Regions from separate parts of the Homo sapiens genome. Here all the other regions are reported to be linked to region 1. Evidence: microRNA targets listed by miRTarBase, many of them from high-throughput screens and not tested one by one. Region 1 holds a microRNA gene; each other region holds the end of a gene's coding sequence.

What was found. The annotated mature microRNA hsa-miR-7110-3p reads UCUCUCUCCCACUUCCCUGCAG and lies in region 1 at 3,189-3,210, opposite strand. An mRNA with a match to its seed (bases 2 to 7 or 8) in the 3' UTR can be bound and repressed. Matches are read on the target gene's strand: a 7mer-m8 pairs with bases 2 to 8, a 7mer-A1 pairs with bases 2 to 7 and ends in A, and an 8mer does both.
Region 2: the mRNA of AGPAT1 is a reported target of hsa-miR-7110-3p. Seed matches in the 3' UTR shown: 7mer-A1 at 3,391-3,397, 8mer at 3,389-3,396, 8mer at 3,387-3,394 and 8mer at 3,385-3,392.
Region 3: the mRNA of PLCL1 is a reported target of hsa-miR-7110-3p. Seed matches in the 3' UTR shown: 7mer-A1 at 2,869-2,875, 8mer at 2,870-2,877, 8mer at 2,872-2,879, 7mer-A1 at 2,881-2,887, 8mer at 2,882-2,889, 8mer at 2,884-2,891 and 3 more.
Region 4: the mRNA of QRSL1 is a reported target of hsa-miR-7110-3p. Seed matches in the 3' UTR shown: 7mer-A1 at 3,600-3,606, 8mer at 3,601-3,608, 8mer at 3,603-3,610, 8mer at 3,605-3,612, 8mer at 3,607-3,614 and 8mer at 3,609-3,616.

Annotation. Positions count from the first base shown.
Region 1 is chr3:123,158,976-123,165,067 of GRCh38, reverse strand. MIR7110 (microRNA 7110) reads right to left here and starts at 3,274; the gene lies at 3,189-3,274. It overlaps PDIA5 (protein disulfide isomerase family A member 5), which reads right to left. Exons shown (of 17, transcript NM_006810.4): 16 at 3,613-3,747; 17 at 2,964-3,188. The coding sequence ends at 3,108.
Region 2 is chr6:32,164,828-32,170,919 of GRCh38, forward strand. AGPAT1 (1-acylglycerol-3-phosphate O-acyltransferase 1) reads right to left here. Exons shown (of 7, transcript NM_006411.4): 4 at 5,598-5,773; 5 at 5,338-5,433; 6 at 5,139-5,211; 7 at 3,385-4,621. The coding sequence ends at 4,449. EGFL8 (EGF like domain multiple 8) reads left to right here. Exons shown (of 9, transcript NM_030652.4): 2 at 1,311-1,439; 3 at 1,671-1,793; 4 at 1,874-1,983; 5 at 2,083-2,178; 6 at 2,260-2,430; 7 at 2,523-2,602; 8 at 2,676-2,829; 9 at 3,083-3,454. The coding sequence starts at 1,339. The coding sequence ends at 3,129. PPT2-EGFL8 (PPT2-EGFL8 readthrough (NMD candidate)) reads left to right here. Exons shown (of 16, transcript NR_037861.1): 10 at 1,311-1,793; 11 at 1,874-1,983; 12 at 2,083-2,178; 13 at 2,260-2,430; 14 at 2,523-2,602; 15 at 2,676-2,829; 16 at 3,083-3,458. MIR6721 (microRNA 6721) reads right to left here and starts at 5,289; the gene lies at 5,203-5,289. RefSeq lists enhancers at 2,211-2,963, 4,472-5,671.
Region 3 is chr2:198,144,369-198,150,460 of GRCh38, forward strand. It overlaps PLCL1 (phospholipase C like 1 (inactive)), which reads left to right. Exons shown (of 6, transcript NM_006226.4): 6 at 2,412-5,495. The coding sequence ends at 2,594. Among named protein-coding and RNA genes, the nearest start is that of LINC01923, 230 kb to the right of the region's middle.
Region 4 is chr6:106,664,366-106,670,457 of GRCh38, forward strand. It overlaps QRSL1 (glutaminyl-tRNA amidotransferase subunit QRSL1), which reads left to right. Exons shown (of 11, transcript NM_018292.5): 11 at 1,417-4,052. The coding sequence ends at 1,637. Among named protein-coding and RNA genes, the nearest start is that of LINC02526, 28 kb to the right of the region's middle.

The sequences.
Region 1 (6,092 bases):
GTTGGACAACAATGTAAATGTACTTAGTGCCACTGAATTGTACCTTTAAAAATGATTAAAATGGTAAATTGTGTGCTATGTATATTTTACCACAATATAAAAAGGCATAGACATACACACCTTCACTCAGCTGCAGTAGCCAAATTTCAAGTACTCAATACTCATATGTGGCTAATGGCTATTGGATAACACTGGCCTAAAATAGAAGATTTTGGAGGTGACATATATTTGGTGGGACCATAAGCATAATTTGGTTTTGATAGATAGCTTAAGAATATCAGCTTCCTTCTTCTAGTCAACAATAAAAGAATGGGAAACAGTAAGAGCACAATGCACAGAGTTTGGTTCTGAGCACCAATGTGCACTCACTCTCAAACTGGGAGCCTCCTGCGGGCAGGGCTGGTGCCTGTGTTATTCCATGTGATGTGGGCAGGTGATGTAACCCCTGGACATAGGCTTTGCCTTCCTAAGAGGGCCTGATGCTTTCCAGATGAGATTCCACATCTTCTTACGTTGCGGTGGAGAAAACCAGCTTCTGAACCTGGAAGCATCACCTTCCCGTGCCCGGCGCAGAACAGCTCCTGGAAGCCAAACACCTCTAGAAGGGGAGGGAGCAGCATGAGGAAGGTAAGAGAGACAGGGTCCTGCTCGGAAGGCTCCAGTTAGGTGGTGATGGGGACTCACTGCTGGGCAAGGGGCACCAGAATAAAGATGGGGATCAGTTCTCCCCTAACTCACGTACTTCCTGCAGAGAAATCAGCCTGCAACGCAGGATCCAGGCGAACAGAGGAGGGTGATAGCAAGCCCTCCAGTGGGGCAGAGGGAGGAGGTCTGCACTAAACATCAGTGAAACCACAAAGAACCAAGCATGGTGACTGGGAGTAGAACTAACCCGGATGCCAGGGGGCGAGTGGAGGAAGAGAGTTCTGTCCGCAGGGGGAGCTGCCCAGAGCTGCGACGAAATTTGCTGAGGTCATGCCCAAAGTCAATAAATAGGGATGTGAAGAGGATTCCATTTCATGATGTGTTAAAAAATTTCTTTAAATCTATATTTGACAATATTTCATGTTTTTAAGTCTTCAAATAGAAGCTAAGCCAGGAAAATCTGAACTCTGAGGATGTGGAATGGCCAGAAAGTAAGCCCTGTGCCTCGCAGGTGGGCACTAGTGGTCCTCAGCCAGGAAGTGGCTCTTGTGAGATTATTATTGAAAAGGTGCAGTAAAAAAAACCCAAAAACAAACAAACAAAAAACTTTTTTGAAAAACACAAGCAAATATGTTCCCCCTACAAATACTCCAAATAACGAAGGAGACCCATGTCCAGACACACACATGCTAGAATGGTAAACACCTGTGTCAGGATTAAATGACACCTTGTAAGATGTTCATGGTCCCCAACAGGAAGGGACTCAATAATTGTGTTTCAATGATGTCTAAATGTATGCTTCTGTCTTTCATATCCAATCCTTGGGTGAAGTCCAGGGGCCACTGCCAAGGAAGTGGGTGCTTAGGGGAAAAGAGAAGAGCTGAACTGGCAGGAGGGTCAATTGGAAAGTTGGAGAACTGCACAGAACAAGGGCTCTCAAAACCTTGATTTCCCTTAATGAAACCACCCACAGTGGCACCATCGTCAAAACAGCTGTGAAGAACTTGGAGGCTCTGTCCTCCTCTCAGCAGATTCATCAGCAGGAAGGACTTAGGCCAGGAGGAAGGGAGCTGGGTCCAGGAAAGGAGGGCTGTTCCTGCAGGCCAAGTCCCCATCAAGGCCACCAGAGCGTGCTTCCAAGTACTGCAGCTTAAGCAACGCCCCCCTGAACTACTGGAGGAATCCAACTCTAGGACCGCTACTTATAACTAAAGACAAGATACTAGCACAAGGCCACTCTGCTGTCCATGGAGAAATACCACCAAGCAGACAAAACATGTTACTGCTGTGCTCAGGCTCTGCCTGCACCGCTGGGCACAGGGCTGGGGTGTCAGTCACGCAGGAATGCAGAAAGCAGGAGGACTCACCAGAAAGGTGGGTCAAAAAGGAGATGTACACAGGCAGGAGGCCGAGCAAGGCACCCATCCATGGAAAACGTGGCGTAAAGATTTGGGGTTATTATGGTTGGTGGTGGGGGCTGGTGAGCAGATCTAATATCTGCACCTCGAGAACACACCATCCCTTCCAGCCAGGGTGCACAGCAAGCAGCTGGCACAGAGCCCCCCTTCCCCCACTCCATTCATGCCCCTGAAGCGGCAACTTAATTTTCTTTAAAGGGAGATTGGGGAGGGAATGGAGAGACGAAGAGAAGACAAATAGCTGGAGAAAGATAAATACCTAAGTAAGTTCCAGGAAAACACACACAGAGGAAACACACCAATGCTGAAACCGCAATGATCCAGAAGAAGCTAGTGTTTGGTTACCATTTGCTTCAGCATCCCAATTTCCCTGATCATCTTTTGTTTTTTTCTTTCTTTTTCTTTTTCTATTTTTGAGACAGGTCTTGCTTTCTAGCTAGGCTGGAGTAGTCATGCGATCATAGATCATTGCAGCCTTGAACTCCTGGGCTCAAGAAATCTTCCCTTCCCAGCCTTACAAGTAGCTGGGACTATAGGCATGTACCCCTATGCCCAGCAACTTTATTTTCTGTAGACATGAGGTCTCATAATGTTTCCCAGGCTGGTCTTGAACACCTGGCTTCAAGTGATCCTCCCACCTCAGCCTCCCAAAGTCATTGATCATCTTGACGTATTTCCTCTCATTAGCTTGTCATTTTCCAGCAGGATATTCTGCGGTCCAGTTTCCCTGTTCTGCTCTCAAATGACTGACAGGGGGCCGACACCCTCAGGAGTCACCTCCATGCAGATGGGGCACTGGAGCACTGCTCTGTACCTCCCAGCAGAGGTGGTGGAATGAGGAGGATGTGAGTATCCACCTTTTTTAGTACAGGCTCCACGAAAATAAACCATACCACCAAATAAATGGTTTAATTTTATTTCAAAATTGTACAAAATGGCCATAAGCGGCTATAAAAAATTTGTCTTCAGAACATGTGGAAATTCAGAAACAACAAAACAGGTATCATTCACAGTGTAATGGAAAAGCTTTTTCTGAGGCAGGAATTATAACTCTTCCTTCTTTTTCCCTAGTCTTTCATGGTCTCCCTCCCGGAGGGCTCGAATATAATTGGTAAATCCCAATTCCTGCAGGGAAGTGGGAGAGAGAGAGAGAGAAAGAGCTTTAATCCCTGAGCTGGCTGTGCACTCTCTCTCCCCACACCCCCAGCCCCTCCAGGGGGTCACTCCTATGACAGGGAGAGGTGGGCAGACTTCTGCAAGGTGGAGAGGGTCTGCGTGGCTTGCACCAGCCCCGACCAGCAAGTGAGAAAACCCTCGGCATCTGGAGTCCAGCCTGCCTCTGGGGACAGGACATCTGTGGCAACCCCTTGGGACTCTCCTCCAACAATGTCAAGCCTCAGCCAGGCCCAGGGCCTGGGCCTCTCGGTGCAGTGTTCCAGCTGACTTCTGCAGTTTCTGGGATGCTGCCCAGTGCTGCCCCTCCTCAGTGGAAGTTTCCCTGCCCATCAGCAGAGAGAGAGCTCTGGGCAGACGCCTCTCCCCCACTTACTGTGCGGTCGCTGTCATACTTTTCTGCGAACTTCCCATAGTGGTAGTAGTGGAAAGTGGGGTAGCCCTTGACCGCCTCCTGCTGGCACAGGTCTTGGTTCTTGTCTTTGACACAGTCAACAGCGGCACAGGCAATCTAGGAGCCAAGGTAAAGAGAGTTGGCACAGGGTGTCCCCAGGCTGAGGCCTGGACCCCACAACACAGATTGCACATCTAGTCCACGTCACAGGCCCACTCTGATTTTTCTCCTCAGTGGCAGGTAGGAACTGAACCAAAGCACCCCCAGCTCAGGACTCCTTGGAGACTGATGGTGCTTGTTTTCAATTTCCAGATGGGTAAGGTTAGGGGACTCGGCCTGGAGTGCCTTTAGACTGTCCTTTAAAATCAAGAGTATGATGATCGTAAAGGAAATGATGACTTGAAAGCATTTGTAAACACCACAGGTTCTGTGGTGCTATCTGTAAGGGACTGTAGGATTTAATCATTTCTCCACTAATATTTCCGGAACATTAGCTTGGGGGGACAGTATAGTGCCAAGGTTAAGGGCAAGAGCTTTCAAGTCAAGTTCCCCAAGTGCACTCTTGGTTTGCCTGGACAGTAAGACTTAAGGAAAATAACTCAGCCTCTTGGTGCCTCATTTTTTTCAGCTGTAAAATGGGGATAATAATAGTATCTAGGCTATCAGGATATTGTGAAGACTGAATAAGAGAATTCCAGTGAGGCCAGTGAGCACAGAACCTGGCACCAGATTCATGGTCAGGAAATGTCAGCTGCTATTACAGTCACTTCTTCCAACCCCATATACAAGCTCTGTCCCCACTTAGGGGCTCAGTGTCTGGGCAGGGGTTGGATAAAGGGACAATTCCAACATGATGTGATGTGAGGGATGAGGGAGGTGGTCCAGGTGCCAGGTGAGTGGGGCAAAGGCGCTCTGTATGATTCGCCATCTGAGCCAAGACTGGAAGAGGAGGAGACCAGGGAAGCACATCTGGAAACTGGAGGAGCCCCGCATGAGTAAAGCCATCAGAATGTTTGGTCAGAAAGTGGTTCCCACATTGGCCACTGGCCTCTTCTTGACCATCTAGCAAATTCCACATGCTGGGTAGCTTTTCCTCATCATTTGTTGTTTTTTCAAAGGAAGACAGTATAAAGCAGAAATGGGGAACTTGTTTCCGGTTGAGGGTCATGCACCAGGGAAGCCCGAGAAGGGGTCCTCAATGGCCATACCCAGTACAGAGGTGTTATGGAAGATGGGGCAGATTCCCATGAGAATGAGTCCTCCTACCAGGCAACACACACTGAAACCCTGCCGTGTGCCAAGCCTGTTCTAGATGCTGGGGGACAACGTCGACCTTGACAAAGTCCAGTTATCAAGCGTCTGCTGTATGACAAATTAGATCATTTTAGATAGAGCTCAATGAATGCTTGGAAGAAATTAAAAGAGGGTGATTCAATAAGATAATTTAAAATTATTGAATAACCATGATTCACACAGTTCTTTGGTTGATGGTTATTTGCATTTGGACAAAGCCCCTTTCCAGGTAGGAGAATCCTGTGGGCCCCCATGGCCACGTTTACTCATCATGTCCCTCATGCCCAGGTGAGCTGCCAGATGGATAGCTGAAGAGAAGAGTGAGGTGCGGCCTCCCCTGGCCACCAGGTGCCACCTTCACCCCCCTCACCCTCACGCTTCCCTTCTACTCTTCAGCTATGTAACATTCTATACGGTGAGACTTTTAAAATGGAGTTTACAAACTTGCTGCCTGCAATCTGTATCTGGCTCTCAGTCCTCTTCTATTTGGCCCACATTGAATTTAACAACAACAAAAAAAATAAATCTGAATTAGCTCCAACATAGAAATGGAGCCAGAAGATTTAATACAACAATTTGGCTTTCCAGCTTCTCTTTAAAAGTCAGAAGACTTGATGGCACTTACCCTGCAGTCTCACAGGTGACAACTGGCTGGGCAGAGAGGCAGCTGTCCTTCAGGTAGGCTAAACATACCTTCCCCAGCACCCCCTGGAGCCCAGTTCACCCAGGCCAGCAGACTGGCCCCTATGCACTTCTGATAACCGCAGCCCACCTCTAACGCACTTTATTATTTAAAAACATGAGGCAGATGCTCCCCTGGCCAAATTGTGGGGTTCCATTTCTCAGGGCAGGTGCTATGGGGCCCTGCCCAGGGACACGGGCATCCACATACTTTCCTTCCCTGCAGCCAGAGGCTGAGGCCCCATGCCCAGCCCGGGCCAGGAGCTGCTGCTCCGCCATGAAAGTGCTGGATGAACATGGCTCTGGGCTGCTGCTCTCCCTGCATCTGCTTTAAATTATGAATTTAATTTGTATACAATGCCCTGGAGCTATTGGAAATATAGTGTATGGTTTTATAAATCTACTAAATTAGAAATGTATACTTGTTCTGAATCACCTAAACTAGCTGCCAGCCGCACACATGGAATGCAACTTCTAGCTGCAAAGGT
Region 2 (6,092 bases), not on the chromosome of region 1:
GTGTGTGAAAGGTGTGGAGTTTCCAGGTGCTTGGTTTGTGTGTACGGTGTGAAGGTATATAGCTAGGGGTTTTTTTTGTTTGTTTGTTTTGTTTGTTTTTTTGAGACGGAGTCTTGCTCTGTCGCCCAGGCTAGAGTGCAGTGGCATGATCTTGGTTCACTGCAACCTCTGCCTCCAGGGTTCAAGGGATTCTCCTGCCTCAGCTTCCCGAGTAGCTGGGATTACAGGCGTCCACCACTGCGCCTGGCTAATTTTTTGTATTTTTTAGTAGAGATGGGGTTTCACCATCTTGGCCAGGCTGGTCTCGAACTCCTGACCTCATGATCCACCCACCTCAGCCTCCCAAAGTGCTGGGATTACAGGTGTGAGCCACCGCGCCCAACCAGCTAGGGTTTTGAAGGTATGAAGTTATAAGAGGGCATGTTAAAGACAGGAGGGTTGGCCAGGCATGGTGGCTCACACCTGTAATCCCAGCACTTTGGGAGGCCAAGGCAGGCGGATCACCTGAAGTCGGGAGTTCGAGACCAGCCTGACCAACATGGAGAAACCCCGTCTCTACTAAAAATACAAAACAAAATTAGCCGGGCGTGGTGGCAGGCGCCTGTAGTCCCAGCTACTCGGGAGGCTGAGGCAGGAGAATGGCATGAACCCGGGAGGCGGAGCTTGCAGCAAGCCGAGATCGCACCACTGCACTCCAGCCAGGGTGACAGCGAGACTCCGTCTCAAAAAACAACAACAAAAAAAAAACCAAAAAAAAAAAACCCTAGCTATATACCCTCACACCCTACAAAACAAAACAAAACAAAATTAGCCAGGCGTGGTGGCGCATGCCTGTAATCCCAGCTATTTGGGAGGCTGAGGCAGGAGAATCACTTGAACCTGGGGGGCGGAGGTCGTGCGGTGAGGCAAGAACATGCCATTGCATTCCAGCCTGGGTAGTAAGAGCGAAACTCCTTCTCAAAAACAAAAACAAAAAAAAACCCAAAAAAAGACAGGAGGGTCATAAGGGGAGGGTTGACTGTGTGTCCCTCCAGGTTGTGCAGAGGGGATTAGAAGTAAGTAGGTTAGAGGGGAGGTGGAGGGAGTGTGCTGGGGTGTGAGCTTTTATGATGCTGAAAGGATCATGATATGCTAAGGACAGGATAGTGTTGGGTTGTACACACAGGTGTAGGCAATCCTGGTGGCTAGTATGTAAAAGTGAATGTCCTGACTCCCTTAGAGGGTACCTGCAGAGTGCCCTTGGAGGGACTAGTGCTGGAGAAATTAATAGGAGAGGGGACGGGCATCCATTAACCTTTTCTTGCCTGCAGCCTGTAGGGTCCAGCGTCAAAGCGAATCATGGGGTCCAGGGCTGAGCTGTGCACTCTCTTAGGCGGATTCTCCTTCCTCCTGCTACTGATACCAGGCGAGGGGGCCAAGGGTGGATCCCTCAGAGAGAGGTGACAACAGAGGGGGTAGGGCCCGGGGTGAGCTCTTCTCAGGAGCCTTCTGCTGGGGGTGGGGCTTCACAGGAGGCAAAACATAACTGTAAGTTTAGAATGGGGGTGAGAGGCTGTCATCTGGAGGGAGAGCGGGGGGCCTCAGTAGCCTCTTGAGGGAAGTGGGACTCCTGGCTCCCCAGGGCCTGGCCTACTCAATCTCTCCCACCTCATCCTCTGGCATGGACGCAGTCAGGGAGTCTGCTCCAAGCAGACACTGGTGGTCCCGCTCCACTACAACGAGTCCTACAGCCAACCAGTGTACAAGCCCTACCTGACCTTGTGCGCTGGGAGGCGCATCTGCAGCACTTACAGGTGAGGGATGGGGAGATGGGACCCCAAGAACCCCAACTAGGACCCGTACTCAGGGTCCTGAGCCGGGCGCTGTGTTCCAGGACCATGTACCGCGTTATGTGGCGGGAGGTGAGGCGGGAGGTTCAGCAGACCCATGCAGTGTGCTGCCAGGGCTGGAAGAAGCGGCACCCGGGGGCGCTCACCTGTGAAGGTGAGGCTGGGTCTTCCGGGCCTTGCGGGAGGCGCGCCCCACGGAGCTGGGGAGCTGGGTCGTCGGTTTGAGTCTGAACCCCACTTCCTCTGTCCTCAGCCATCTGCGCCAAGCCTTGCCTGAACGGAGGCGTCTGCGTTAGGCCTGACCAGTGCGAGTGCGCCCCCGGCTGGGGAGGGAAGCACTGTCATGTGGGTGAGTCAGCTTGTCCTCCCCACCTACCCAGGTGCTTGCCCCCGCCCCCTCTCTCAGCCCCTTCCTTTTTTCGGTAACTAGACGTGGATGAATGTAGGACCAGCATCACCCTCTGCTCGCACCATTGTTTTAATACGGCAGGCAGCTTCACCTGCGGCTGCCCCCATGACCTAGTGCTAGGCGTGGACGGGCGCACCTGCATGGAGGGGTCCCCAGAGCCCCCAACCAGTGCCAGCATACTCAGCGTGGCCGGTGAGTGGGCAGGAGTACGGGCCACCCGAGGGACTCGGGACGGGCGTCCGGGCTCGGGTAGTGGTCACACTCTTGGTCTCCTTTGTCCCTAGTTCGGGAGGCGGAAAAAGATGAGCGCGCTCTGAAGCAGGAGATTCACGAGCTGCGAGGGCGCCTGGAGCGGCTGGAGCAGGTGAGCCAAGCCTGCTGGGTGGGGCGAGGCCAGACGTCACTGTCAATACCCTGAGGCATCTCTTCCTTTCTAGTGGGCCGGTCAGGCTGGGGCCTGGGTCAGAGCGGTGCTGCCCGTGCCGCCTGAAGAGCTGCAGCCAGAACAGGTGGCTGAGCTGTGGGGCCGGGGTGACCGGATCGAATCTCTCAGCGACCAGGTGCTGCTGCTGGAGGAGAGGCTAGGTGCCTGTGAGTCCTCACACTCCTCCCGCCTTGACTTCTATTCCCCAACTTTCCCCAAGACCCCTCTCCATTCAGGCATTCCCTCTTTCCTCCAAGCCCCTCTCCAACATTCACTATCCTCATGCCTCTCCACTTTACCATCGTTCTCTTCTGAAATCCTGTCCCCAGCCCAACAGTTTCACTTATTGTTTGGTGAGAGTGGCAGTGTAGTCCACTCCAGGCTGACCACAGCCACTGTGTCTGCCATGTCATTAACCAGGCTCCTGTGAGGACAACAGCCTGGGCCTCGGCGTCAATCATCGATAAGAAGCCTCTACAGCACCCCTGCCCCCTAATTTATACAGAAACCGGACCCACTAATCCTCTGGGATTGGCCGACTGTGAGCTGCAGATAAGGCTATCAGCCACCAAAGAGCAATGAACAATGGAAACTTCAGAGAGCTGAAGAAAGGGGGAGGCCTGTGTTCTTGGCCTGCCCCTGAGTCTTCTGGCTGGGGGCAGGTTGCCTGGGCAAGAACTGCTTCTTCAATTCCTTAACAAATGCAACCACCAACACCCAGATCTCTCTCTCTCTTTATTTTCAGTTTTTTTGCTGTTATCCAGATAATTAATAAAAACCAACCACGCAAAACTGGGTCCCACCCTCTCCTTTTGCTCCCAGCCTACCTCCCCAGTTGTGGGAACAGGTCTGGAGTGAGAGGCAGGGAGTGGCTAATGCCACCAGGAAGAAATGAAAACTGGCTCAGAGAGGGGGAAGCCTCAACAGAAAAAGAAATAAATTAAAAGCCCTCCTATCCCCTCCAGCCAGGGTTCGTTCCTTTCCCCAACTCCCCAGGGGGCAGAAGTGAGTGCAGCACCTGATGTCTGCTTCTTCCCCTTGTGTCTGGTGAGATGGTGCAGCAGGGCTGCAGGGGGCTGGGTGGGGTCATGTCCACTGAAGAACTGTACTATGGGGACAGAAAACCAGAAATGTGGAGACTGAACTGGTATCCCAGAGAGTGCACGACCCTGGGCATCTGGGCAAGGGCAGGCATGAGACCTCTGAATTAGAAGGGTCCAGCCCCCACTGACAGGAGGCTACACTGGGAGGGAAGGTGAAGGTGCTGAGGAAAGCTCCCATGATGAGCCTGGGAGTGCTTCAGGTATCAGCTTCCAGCCAGAGGGCGAGAAGTCCTCCTCACAAATGGATGAGTCCATTGAATCCATGGACTTTGGAGTGGGGGGGATTTGTTCCAAAGAATGGATGAGTCCACTGGCCAATGTGGGGTAGAGGGGTAGAGAAGACCACATAGGAAGAGACTCCACTGGGGATGGAATGTTCCCCTCCCTTGTGTAGGCTGAGTCACTGGAGATGAGGGGGAGGCAACTGTCCCACAGACAAGACAGTAGGAGGTGGGGGTCAAGAGTGGAGACTGCACCGAGGCAAGAGTCCATGGATGGGGCCAAGAGGGGGCAGGAGTGGCGCTGTATCCACATTCACTTCAGAAGTTGAAGATTCCAAAGAGGAGAATAAGTGGGGAGAGGGGAGACAAGGAAGAGGGTTTGGCCCTGCTTCAGGGCCCACTGGGTGGGTAGGTGTGGGGAGGAAGATGGGGACAGATGGGAGGAGAGCTCAGAGCCAGGGTTCACCCACCGCCCCCAGGCTTCTTCAGATAGTCACCACCACCCCGGCCATCAGTGGAGATTTCCCGGAAAACAGTGAGCATGGAGTGCCGGACTCTGTCAGCCAGAGCTGGGACGTCATCTGGTGTCAGCCCTTCCGTGGGCACTGGGGGCAGCACCCGCACCTGACATTGTCCTGGGGCAAGGGGAGCACCATCATGGCCTGTCCACCCAGGTCTTTGCCCACAGGTGGGGCCCAGCTTCCGAGTGATACTCTTCCTCAACCTTTCAGTTCTCTTCCCCCAACCCTGGACAACCATCCCTGGGCTTGCCAGCTGCCACTTCTGAGGCCCTTCTCCTATACAAAGCCTTCTCCAATCCCCAGTTCAGACATCTCCTCAGCACCCCTCCAGCCCCCCTCCTCTGGGTTTGGCATTTACTGCTGAATGAGTGTTATTCATTACAGCTTTGTGCACACAGGCCTTATCTTTCCTGTTAAGATTAGTAACAGCCTCTCTTGGTGGGACCAAGTGCTACCCATCTGGCAGGGTATGGTGGGTGCTTAGTAAAGACTTATTGGCTGATGTGGGGTTAGACTAGATGACTGTGTAGACATCTCATGGCTCTGACACTGAATGATCCCCCTGCCTCACAGGGATGTCCTCCCAGCCTCTCCGGACACACCCTACCCCAGAACTGCTCAAAGCCCTCACCCGAGGTGAAGCGACGCTCCTTCTTGCAGTAGAAGTCTTGGTAGGAGGACATGACTATGGGGACAATGGGAACCTGGGGAAGGGTTAAAGCAGGTCAGTCCACAGCTCTCTTCAGAGACTCCTACAATAAGCCCCTGCCCAGAGATGAGGGAATGGTGGGGGTTGGCAGCTGAGTAGCAGAACGAAGAGCAGTAGTCACCTGGGCCTGCACTGCAAGATGGAAGGCGCCACGTTTGAAGGGCAGCATGGAGCCATTGTGGTTTCTCGTTCCCTCAGGAAACACCCAGACCCTCACCTGGGGGAGAAAGAGGGTCAAAGAAGACAAATACATATGGAGGAGTCAGAATAGGTGTGATGTTATAATGGGACCTTTGAGGCCCACTGGCCCTGCATATCAGTTTATTTACAACTGTTCTACTCTGTATCCCTCCAATCCCCCATTTCCCCAGGATGACTCACGTCCTGGGTGAGCAGGGTCTGGGCGACCTCAGACATGACACTGATGGCATCCCCCGTGCGCTTCCGGTCGATGAAGATGACTCCTGCCAGCCAGCAGGCCAGCCCGGCAGAGCCAGCCCACAGTAGCTCGCGCTTGGCAATGGGCACACAGCGGCCTGGCAGTACCTCCATCATCCCTTGGGCAGGGTGGGAGTGGGTGAGGATCGGGGTGGAGGCAGAGTGTCACAGAAGGCAACCCACCTCACCCAGCTCATCACCCTCTGGTAGGGACTGGAGGTGAAGGAGGAGACTAGGCAGGGAGGGGGGCCCCAAGTGAAGGAAAGGGTGACCAAAAGTATATGTAACCTGCTTATGAGGGCAGTTCTACCCAGGGAATGAAGGCCTGAGTGGGAGGCAAGGGGGCAATGTCCCAGAGGAAGGGGAATTGAGGATCTCTAGGAGAAGATATTCTAGGGAAGGTTTCAGGAGGGGAGGCATGGCTGGGGGAGGTGTGCC
Region 3 (6,092 bases), not on the chromosome of region 1:
TTTAAAAATATAGTAGTACATATACATTATACATATCTCTGTAAAACAGACTCTGGTAGATGCATTTTAAATGTTAGTCAAATTTTTAATAAAATATAGATAGTACCAAGATACTTATTATATATAGTAGCAGATAATGTTAACCACTTTCTAAATCACCTTATATCATTGTGATTCCTATACTTATGATCATTTAAATCATAAAGAGCTCTTCAACATATTGTCTTTAATCTTAGAACTGTAAGGAAGGCTGAAGGATATTTTCATCATTTTTGCAGAAGAGAAAATGGCCCAGATAAAAATTGGTTGAAGATGCTCCAACCCTCGTCCCTGCTAGTGTGTTCTTGCTCTGCCCTGTCTTCCTGATTCTGGATGCTATCTCTAAATTGTGTCAGGCTGTGTCACATGGGCAATGCTTTTCTTTTTATCTGCGTTGCTTCCATGGGTAACAATGAATAGGAGTCTCTAGGGTGCCCTGCAGAGAGTGCCTGCTTTGCTGTTAAAAGATGCCTATCAGGTAGTGGTTAAAACCACAGACCCCGGAGCCAGCTGCTGGATTTTAAGCTCCAGCTCTACCACTTAGCAGCTGTATGACTTTGGGAAGGGTGACTGTGCTCTGGGCCTCAGTTTTTTTAATCAGTAAATTGAGAATAATGAAAGTACCCATCTCATAGGGATGTTGTAATGAATGATTGAATGAACATGTATAAAGCACAAAGAGTGACCACACTGAGCAAGCACTTCATATGTTGGTCTGTTATTATTATTACTGAAGAGTTGCACTTTTCAAAGTGGATGTGACTTCACTTTTTTTTTTAAATTTATGTTCTGGGATACATGTGCAGAATGTGCAGTTTTGTTGAGCAGACTCATTCGTGATGTCTATAGTGTTAAGAACAGACTTCCCAAAGTCTGCTGGTGTAGTAAATATTTTTTCTTTAGAAAATACATCTCTCACTGACAGAGTCTTTAGGCTCTAATCTCTAGTCTTTAGTCTCAGACTAGATTGTAAACATGGTGTGGGGAATAGAGCATTGATGCAGGAGGCCAAAGGCCTGAACTTTAGTCCCAGCTCAGCGATTAACCAGCTGTGACCTTGGGACAGTCAATTAACCTCATCAGGCTCAGCTTCATTTCTCCTCAGGAGAAGGCAAAACTGTCCACCTCCAACTCTTCTTCCAAAATCCCATACCATAATTGATGTACTTGAGAAGAAGTTCGCTTTAACACAAACATCAGGCAAAGCCCAACTATTTAATCATCCCATATAATTAAAAGCTGCTATTAGAAGGATTTAGCTATTTTTTACAGAGGATAGAATTGGCAAGTGCATATTTAGGTTTTGAGAAATAAAATATTCCAAGCTTTTGTAAAATACAAGTTTCTTCATACACCCTAAGGAAAAAGCATTTACTGGCCTTTCATAAAATAGGTAAATTATCCTTTCTCTGAGCCTCTGCTTTGTAGAATAATGCTCCAGCAATCGTCATAACCCCATATCCACCCATATTGTCCTTTCAAGGTCACACTTTCAGGCACTGCCATGAGAATGGAGAGGAGAGGGAAGAAGCTACTTCTTCCTCTGTCTATGGGCCATAGACACCTGTCCCTGCTTCCCCACACTCAGTCATTCAGCCCTTGGGCCAGTATCAGTATACGCACTTTATCTTCATAACAGTGAACTAAAATAAGAAATAAAAATAGCAGGAAAAGATCTCTGTTGGGCACTGATGTAAATGACAGCTAATGTGTTCCTGCAATCCTCATTTCCTTTTTGTTTTGCCTCTGGAGACTCTTTTTCTCCATCTGCCAGGTGGGAACATCATCTTCAGGATGATGGAAAAGGCAGAAGTAATGTGGGTGACTGATAATTTAACAACAGGCAGATTGCAAGGATGACCCAGTATATTAAAAACCAGCTCACCAAGCATAAGGGTATGTGACTTACTTTACAGAAGACACTTTGCTTTGTAAGCTCTTGTACAGAGGGGGAGATTTTATTTTCACTTCTTTAAGGAAGAGCTTCTTTCCTTGTTTTCTCCCAAGACTAGGAATGCTGGATCTGGGCGGGGTAGGTATTGCAGCAGTGTGCAGAGTCTCAGACCATGGTGATGGAAGAGTTGATGTCCTCAGCACATAAAGAGGAGGATTCCTCACAATAGGAATCTCAACGGACTGCCAGCAATTGCATAGCCAGCTGGTCAGGCTCAGGTTGAGGTACTTGGCTTAACAAGCAAAGTCACTTAATAATGTTAGAAAAGAACCTTGGGTTAAACCCTGGAAAAGTGAGCTTGCAGGTCTGGGTCTGTTTCCTTATTCAGCAATGGGCAGTAAGAACATAGAGTGATGTCACTCAGCACATGCCTGGCCCATAACTGTCTTCTTTGATGCCTGTTTTTTTCTGTTTGTAGGGCCAAGGAGATCTGTTGAAGAATGCCAAGAATGAAGCTATAGAAAACATGAAGCAGATCCAGCTGGCATGCCTGTCCTGTGGACTGAGTAAAGCCCCCAGCAGCAGTGCTGAGGCCAAGAGCAAGCGCAGCCTGGAAGCCATAGAGGAGAAGGAAAGTAGTGAGGAGAATGGGAAGCTGTGACTCTGGGCATTATCGACACGTTCACCCATCTTATCAAGGACTCTGGTTTCTCATTCTTGTTTTCTTTCTTTAAATGTTTTATAAGTTCACAAAATGGTGCCCTATATGGGGTATTGGACATAGATATTTTCACAATGTCAGTATTTCAGTGTAGTTAATTTATCTAAATTAAAGCCTTTAGTATCAGTGTTTTAAATTCTGAGACATGTGTCAACACCCCTGTGTGGATGCCTGTGGAAGAGTGTGTGTGTGTGTGTGTGTGTGTGTGTGTGGCAGAGAGAGAGAAAGAGAGAGAGAGAGAGAAATTCTGTTAAAATCTATTCTGTGTTGCATTATTCATTTAGTGAGTTATTCCTTGATCATTTTGGGACAATTGTTTTAATCTGAAATTCTAAAGAGCACTTACTGTAACCTGTTGCTGTGTTTAATTTGACTTCTCTGCCTTTGACATTTAATTTAGTGATCTTAGCATAGCTTATTATTGAAGGAAGCCAAATTTATCAAAGCATAGATGTTTTGGTAGATTAAATATAGATTAGAAAAATTCCTAAGAATCAGAGTAGAAATAAAAGTGAATGAAAGATTAAACAGATGATGAGAATTTCTAAAAAGATTAGCAAGGTCATTTCTTCAGTCAGAAAACTTTAAAAAATATTTATTAAATAAAATCAATTTTTAGGAAGTTTTCTGTAGTCATTTACTAAACATATGATTTCACTAGAAAAGCTGATCATAAGTGAATTTATACCTACCTGTGTGGTACTCTGAAACACACTGAAAGCTCTGTTGCAATTAGGATTTTGATGTGACAATAATATTGTTGTATAATTTCGAGATTTGTAGGAAGGTCTCATTCTTCCAAGCTGAGAGTCTAGCACTCATTTTCTATAACAGATATGGCAGCTTAGAGGTGTTGGCTTTGTTTGGATGTAATTTAGGGTACTAAATTTAAATTTAAAGATATTGTTCAAACAATATCATATCATCACATTGAGCTGATATAAATTCTGTGGGTCCGATAATATCTTTGTGATAATTTAAGAGCTAACCAGTTACCACACATCTATGATATAACCCTAACACACACAGAAAAGCATACATGCAAAAAGAAATGACTAATTAGGGTACATTTATAATTGCATCTAGGTAATTTTTACCCTAATGTCTTCATAAAGTACTTGAGTGTAATGTTTGTTACCTCCAACAGAACTAAATGTTCTATGGTTATGAAAGAATATATTTATTTAAAGCATTGCTTTTATTTTGAAAAGCTTCTTAATTAATTTGATTAACAAATATGCTAATTTGGGGAAACCTAGAGAAGATAATTGTTGAAATTTTGCAAATATAAACATCTCCTATAGCTTCTGTGTTATTTCTGACTTCTTAACACTATTATGTTTATGTTGCACATTACTGAAAGAGTAAAGATATGAAAAAAACACTTATTGTTTTCTTTTATTGTGAATTGAAAAAGCAAAGCTAATGAAAATGGGTTACTACATCAAAAATATCTTAAAGAGTTTGCTATTTCCATGGACCAGATATGATGAAATTATTCCCTGGGTTTAAAACTGGGCACTCGAGGAGGAGGTACCTGAAGTCATTTGAAGGCAAGTTTCCAATGATGCTACAATGGCCTGAAAAAATTTCTTTACCCTCTGTTATATTTAACTTGCTGGTAGGAGGAATAGTGGAATGCAGGTGTTAAGCCCTTTGTGGTGAAAAAGAGGTTCTATAGACAGAAACAAAACCCACCTTACATCAGCTGATTGGTTGATTTTACTAGTGTACCTCTTCATCTACTTGAATTCTATTTGGTAAATCCATGTCTTTACTGGATATACAGTTAGGTGGGAAGAGGAGATAAAGGATGACAAACTCTCAAACAATATTTATACATTTATTTACTCCAGGGTCAAATCCAATCCTTGGAAGTAGCTTCTCTAGTTTATTTTATTTGTCCCAGAGCTCTACTCACACTTAGGACCCACCCAAAAATTCTCAAAAACGTAATATGGATTCTGCCTCATCTGATGCTATTTCTGGCAGTGGGTTGTCAGCCATACTCTGCTTCATTCCACTGGGTGTCCTTGCTAGATGGGGAGTGAGATGTGGAGCAGGGAGGAGCTTTGGATTCTGGGAGTGGAGGTGGCAAGGGAAAAGTCTCCTAGTCTCCTGTGATGTTCCTGCCTCCAGATAGAATAGCAAAAACAAACAATTTTTTTTTGTGTATTATGCCTCCATGACATTGTTACATTCTATGAGGAGCATCTGTCTCCTTTCTAGACTTGAACTGTGGTAGAAAAAGCCCCCTTCTCTCTTCTATCTACTTAGATTTGGTGATGCTAGGAATGTAGTGTTTTAGATATTAATTCTATTTTTATTTATTCATTTTTACATCACCAATAGGATCTGAGGTGGAGATGGCGGGTATTATCACTGGCATTTTACAGGTGAGAAAGCCCAAAGCCACTGAGGTAATTAATGGAATAATTGATTTTGAACTTGGGTCTGTCTGATTTCATGTGCAAGATTATATACTTAGTGATTTTGATTTTAAGTTTATTCTTAACATTTTAAACCAGACTATTAACTCTTACCTTTATAACCACAGATACAAAGAACTGTATCATTTATTTTCTGAATATAAAATATTAATGGTCAATATAAAAATACAAAAATAGAGAACTATATACAACAGAAAAGCAAAATTACCCACTAATAACATTTTGATTTATATCCCTTTAGACACTGTTTAGAGTTTATACATATATGTAAATATGCTTGTATTTTAACAAAATTGAGATATTATATAAACTGTTTGTAGCAGGGTGTTTAAAATTTTAACAATATGTTATGGATATCTTTCTGTGTCAATAAATGTGTATTTACATTAGAGTTCCAAGCATTTGAACTGAATCTAGTCCAAAAATGATGTGTTTTATTTGGCCATTGAACATTTTTTAAAAAAATCTTTAAGCAATAGACAGCTTTTGAAATTCAGAAAATGTTACGTACAATTCAATGTCCTGCATGTTTTAAAATACTGGATAATCTAACAACACAGAACACCTCCCACTCCCCACCTCACAACCACCACACATATACTTTCTTGCTTGGCATCAGTTAATTGAAACTGCCCTCTCCAAAAGGGGCATATGCTGTCCAATTTTCTAGAGAGCCTTTTCATTCATTTATGTTACATCTGGACCTTAAGGACATGATAGGTGGTGAAACTTGATGAAAATTATCATTTATTGAGAGGCCAAAATGAGAGAATTGCTTGAGGCTGGGAATTGAGACTAGCCTGGGAAACATAGTAAGACCTTGTCTTTAAAAAATAAAAAAAAATTAATGGTCATTTATAATAATTATACAGTATCTTATTATATGGCTTACCAGAATATATTTAACCAATCTCCTATTGCTAGATTTTACTCACCTAATTTCTTGTTATATAAACATTCCAATAATAAAATCCATTTTTGCAAAGTT
Region 4 (6,092 bases), not on the chromosome of region 1:
GTGTTCATTCTTCCTTCCTGAAGTACCAAGATTCTTTATTTTGTCACTTCTGTTTAGAGAAATTTCTTTAGCCTTTCTTTTAGGGTAGGTCTGCTGATGAAAAATTATCATAGCTTTCCTTTTGAGAATGTGTTGATTTCCCTTTGATTTTTAAAGGTTATTTTTGCTGGATGTAGAACTCTGGTTCAACAGTTCTTATCTTTAGCACTTAAAAAATGTTAAGAGCCCAGTCCACTTGTGCTGTAAGATGTCCCATCCATAATCAGGATTTGTCAGATTGCTTCCTCATGATTGGGTTGAGTTAAACATTTTTGGTAGAAGTACTACATAATCTTCATGTCAGGAAACAGTTAATATCAGTTTGTCTCACTTTTGGAAACCAAGTTGATCACTTCGCTAAGGAAGTAACTGCTAGATGTTTCCTTATAAAAAGGTACATTTTTCCTTTTATCATTTTTTTAAGCAATTTCTGGAGTAATATTTTGAGACCATGTGAATATCCTATTTTCCAATTATCTTGAACCCAGTTTTAGCATTCATTGATCATCCTTGAAATATTAGCTAGAGAATTACAAAATTCTGGCTTTACTAAATCTGTCATTCCTTCTACATTTATTAGCTAGCAGTATTCTCTAAAGAAGAGCCTTCCTTTTTTTCTTTAATTCAATGTATTATAAGCAATTACTGTCAGTATTGTTTTTGATGGTCAAATTGCCTTAAATTTGGCCAATAAGAGCCCCTTCAAGTTATATGTATCCTTTAAAACTGTCCCCATTTTAATTTTTGAAAACTTGTTTTATTGTATAACAAGATGGTCTGGGATTTTGTACTTTCTCTGCCCAAACCTGGAATTAAAACTACCCTGAGCTAATTTCTCATCTAATGGATTGCCAAAAATTCAAAAACTGAACAACACACTCTGTCTGCAAGGCTATAGGTGGAAGTTCAAAATGGTACAACTTCTTTGCAGGGGAATTTTGCAATATCTAATTACATATGCATTTGTCGTTTGATGAAGCAATCTCCTCCTCATCTAAGAAGATTTCAAGAATACCAAAAAAATACATACACAAAGTAATTCTCTGGGGCATTGTATAAAATAGCTAAATATTGAAAACAATCTAAATACCCAACCACAGAAGACTGGTTTACTCAATTATGGTAAAACCAAGTAATGGAGTACTATACAGCAATAAGAAATGAATGAAGAAGGTTTCTGTGAACTGATACAGAATGATTTCCAAGATATATTGTTAAGTAAACAAAACATAGTACAAAAGCATTATATAGCATAATATTTTTGGTTGTTTTTTAAACCTTATCCTGTATTGTACTTATTAGCACTGGAAAGTGGAAGAGGTCTCTGCTAATTAGGGTGGAGAATTAATCACCTACTGGGTTTCCTTCTTTTCCCAGGATTGCCAGCAGTGAGTATCCCTGTTGCACTCTCAAACCAAGGGTTGCCAATAGGACTGCAGTTTATTGGACGTGCGTTTTGTGACCAGCAGCTTCTTACAGTAGCCAAATGGTTTGAAAAACAAGTACAGTTTCCTGTTATTCAACTTCAAGAACTCATGGATGATTGTTCAGCAGTCCTTGAAAATGAAAAGTTAGCCTCTGTCTCTCTAAAACAGTAAACATATCTTACAAATTAAAATGACTTTTAGGCTGGGTGCAGTGGCTCACACCTGTAATCCCAGCACTTTGGGAGGCCAAGGCGAGCGGATCATGAGGTCAGAAGATCTAGAACAGCCTGGTCAACATGGTGAAACCCCGTCTCTACTAAAAATACAAAAATTAGCCAGGCTTAGTGGCGGGCATCTGTAGTCCCAGCTACTCAGGAGGCTGAGGCAGGAGAATCACTTGAACCCTGGAGGTGGAGGTTGCAGTGAGCCGAGATCATGCCACTGCACTGCACTCCAGCCTGGGTGACAAAGCAAGACTGTGTCTCAAAATAAATAAATAAAATAAAATAAAATGACGTACAGAGATTCTATATTCTAGAGAGTCAAATGGTCTTGCTCAATTCTTGTAATTAGGTTCTTGTTAATACAGTCATTCCATGGAATTACTTTTTAAAATTCCTGTGACAATTAATAATAAATAACGTGTCAGCATTTAGTAAGCATCCACTAAGTGTACAATACTTCTACAATAACACAAGATACCTGTTCCTCAAAGACAATGCATTCTGCCATAATGTTCATTAAAGAGTTTACAGTAAAAATAAGATTAGGGATAAACTTCTCAAAAATTGTACATCTGTGTAACTAAAGCACTAACAAAAACATGAATAGTCCTTCTAGAGGTAACTTGGATAGCCTAGGCAGGCAACTTATCATGTGGTGAAGGCCGCCTCAGGGGTTGTTAAAAATGCACAGAAACAATTGAGTGCGATTATTGGCTTCTGAGCGCTGAGCAGAGCAGGTGGAAGAGGAACTTTGAGCACAGGAGGAAATGCAACCAGTCAGGGCCCAGAATCATGCAAATCTCAGGGGTATGCCTCTCTGGGGAGGAGCTCCACTTGCAGGGACTCCTTTTATTTCCCTAAGAAAGAGCTGAAATGACTGAGAACTTTCCTTTCCTCCTTAGAGTTACAATTTTACTTCTGCTATTCCGGAGCCCATGCCTAGAAGCCAGAACAACTCCATGTTACACTGAGTTCATGCTCCTATTTACTGATCACAAATGAGCTCATTAATGTCATCGAAACATTTATTGTAACCTAACAGACCATCACAGATTGGAAACTTGGTAGATAGCAGAGCATGGTATTAGTGAAAAAGGTTCAAAATACACAAGTAACATACACTCTGAAAAACATGCAGATAATTTGCTGATGAAGCAGAAGAGGGGATGCGCATGGCAAGAACTTGCCTTACCCCAGATTCTCTATATCTCATGGTTTCCTTTTCCTCTTGACTGTCTTTACGAGTGTTTTTTATTTGGGACCCTCGAGCCCAGAGATATTAATGGATATCTGTATTCAATATTTGACAAAATCTAATGGAAACCATCCATTTACTCATGATAAGGCTTCATCACTGGATTTCTGTGTCTTCACTAGAACACCATTGTCATCTCATATTGATCAGGTATTTTAATCTAGCACTTACATATTGTTGATAAATGAAAGCTGAATTGTTACTTAATAAATTCACTTTGTTTAGTAAAAAAAAATTGTTTTCTAAATATGACGTTCATGAAGAGAAAATAATGAGTCAGAATCATCTGCAGAACCACTGGAATGTTTCATCGTCACCTGTTAGTTTTCATAAACAGTTTTCTGTCCTCTCTGAGATCCTCCCGCTCCCAAATACTCAACCTGATTAACTTCACATAAAAGTCTTATGTGCCAGGCTTAGTAATATTCCTATAGATTTTGACTCTGAATCCCTGAAAGAGGAAGAAATCCATGAGAGAAAATTGCATTACTTTATAGCAAGAGGAAACCGTTTTAAGTTTTTTAATTGCTCAGACACCACAACATCCTAGATGGAGGAAACCATTTTAGTTGAAGGAGCAAATATGATGTCAAAAGCAAGTAAATAAACAAACCGTTGCCCCAATCTGTTTTTATGTAATGAATTTAAAAAAAAAGAGAGAGAGAGAGAGATGGGCTCTCCCTGTGTTGCCCAGGCTAGTCTCAAACTCCTGGGCTCAAGTGATCTGCCTCCCTCAGCCTCCCAAAGTGCTGAGATTAAAGACGTGAGCCACCACACCTGGCCGAAATAATAATATTCAATATTATATATTCAATGATATTATTCAGTATTCAATATTATTTCAAATAATATTAAATCTCTTGTTCCTGTATCTCTACATGAGCTGCACTAATAATTTGAATCTGGAAATTAAAAAGTGAAACATTTACCGTTCTCATATACTGATACCCAACTACCATGAAATGATACCTAATTTGTTTTTCTTTTCTCTTCATTTTTACTCTTAATCTAGTAGGTCTCATTTTGCCAAGTCACTGTCTGGGAATTTAAGTGGCAAATACTTTCTTTGTCTCAGCTAATTAAACTCTAAAATTATTAGCAACAGAACTTCCAGAACAGAGTGTTTTTGAAAGGTGAAGATGTCTACACGTGTAAGATGAGTTCCTTGATAACACCTGAAAGACCCAAACCAAAGCAAAAGTTTGAACACGTGTCAGAGTGAAAAAATGATGTGATCATAAAACATGGTGCTCTGCCACCACAGAGAGCCAAAGGAGCAAGCGGGAAAACCACTGTTCCACGCTGGCCCACACTTAGCGTTACCAAAAAAAGCACCTGAAACCCAGGAGGCAGAATGTTCCCTTTGAGTGGCTGACACCGGGTCCTCTGTGATGACATCAGACTGGGCTGTTTAAAATTAAAGATGGCATGGTATAGAAGAGGAGCTTGCAAAATGACAAAAAAAAGTGCTTATTCCTATTAGGAAATAGCTGCACCTCCTAATGTAAATAAGTAACTTTAGGATTTTAAACAGAATCTGAAGGATAGTGAAAAGAAATAAGCAGGTACTAATAAGTAGACCTCGGGATTCAGCAAGCCGTGTGCCATACCTTATTTGATTCAAAGCAGGGGAGTAGGCCAGGCGCGGTGGCTCACGCCTGTAATCCCAGCACTTACGGAGGCCGAGGCGGGCGGATCACGAGGTCAGGAAATCGAGACCATCCTGGCTAACATGGTGAAACCCCATCTCTACTAAAAATACAAAAAATTAGCCAGGCGCGGTGGCAGGCGCCTGTAGTCTCAGCTACTCAGGAGGTTGAGGCAGGATAATGGCATGAACCTGGGAGGCAGAGCTTGCAGTGAGCCGAGAGTGCACCACTGCACTCCAGCCTGGGCGACAGAGTGAGACTCCATCTCAAAAAATTAAAAAATAAATAATAAATAAAAAGCAGGGGAGTAAAATAATGGAACTTTAAAAATATCTCTTATTATAAATTTTCATTCATTAACTACTTTTAATCCCCCTCCCTTTTATTATTATTATTTTTTTTTTTTTTTTTTTTTGAGACAGGGTCTTGCCCTCACCCTGGCTGGAGTACAGTGGCACAGTCCTGCTCACTGCAGCCTTGACCTCCTGGGTCCAGGCAATCCTCCCACCTCAGTCTCCCAAGTGTGGCACCACCAGGCCCAGCTAATTTTTTTAATTTTTTGTAGAGTCAGGGTCCTGCCATGTTGCCCAGGCTGGTCCTGAACTCCTGGGCGCAAGCCATCTGCCCACCTTGGCCTCTCGAAGTGCTGGGATGACAGGAGTGAGCCACCGTGCCCAGTCCCCCTCCCTTTCTTCAAACATCTGGTTATCTGTACCAAGGCACAAGCCTAGGAAAAGACATATCCGTTGTGTTTAGAAGGACCCAGAGGAAGTTTAAAATAGAAGGCTTTCCTCAGTTATTTAATAACTTAAGCAATGTGTACACTAGAACATAAACCTGAAAATTTAATAAAGGCAAATAACACGAAAAAAAAACCAAAGGCAACATTAAGTAAAAGTAATTACTACAGGATTTCGGAGGAGCTTTTTTATTTATTTTTCTTTGTACCTCAATAGAATATAAACCCAAAAATATTTTAGGCAGTTTATTAAAAATATATTATTACAATTGTATAAAAGTAAATAGTTGAGGAAATCCATGAAGTGATAATAAAAGTGAGGAAGAAGAATAAAACCAGAAATAGATTAAAAACAAAAAATGCTTGTCAGGGTATCTATATAGATGCTTAATATTGGGTAGTATATGATATGGTGGGAAATTAGCTTTCCTAGTGGGGTAAGGCCACCAGATTTAAAAATCAGACAACCCTGAATTGAATCTTGTTGCTGCCATTTCCGAGCCGCGTAACTTGTCTTGAGTTTCAGTATCCTGACCTGTAAAATAGGGATAATATCCACTCCTTGGGGTAGTCGGAGGGATTAAATTTAAGTGACACACTGAAAGCACATAGCATGATACCTGACAGAATAAGCACGCAATATTTTGTAGCTATAAATAAATGCATGCAATCATGAATTTCAGTCATTTTCTTATAGAGGCCTCACAGTAAACTCTTACAGACGCCACAATTTGGCATGTGGCCAAATTATAATTTACT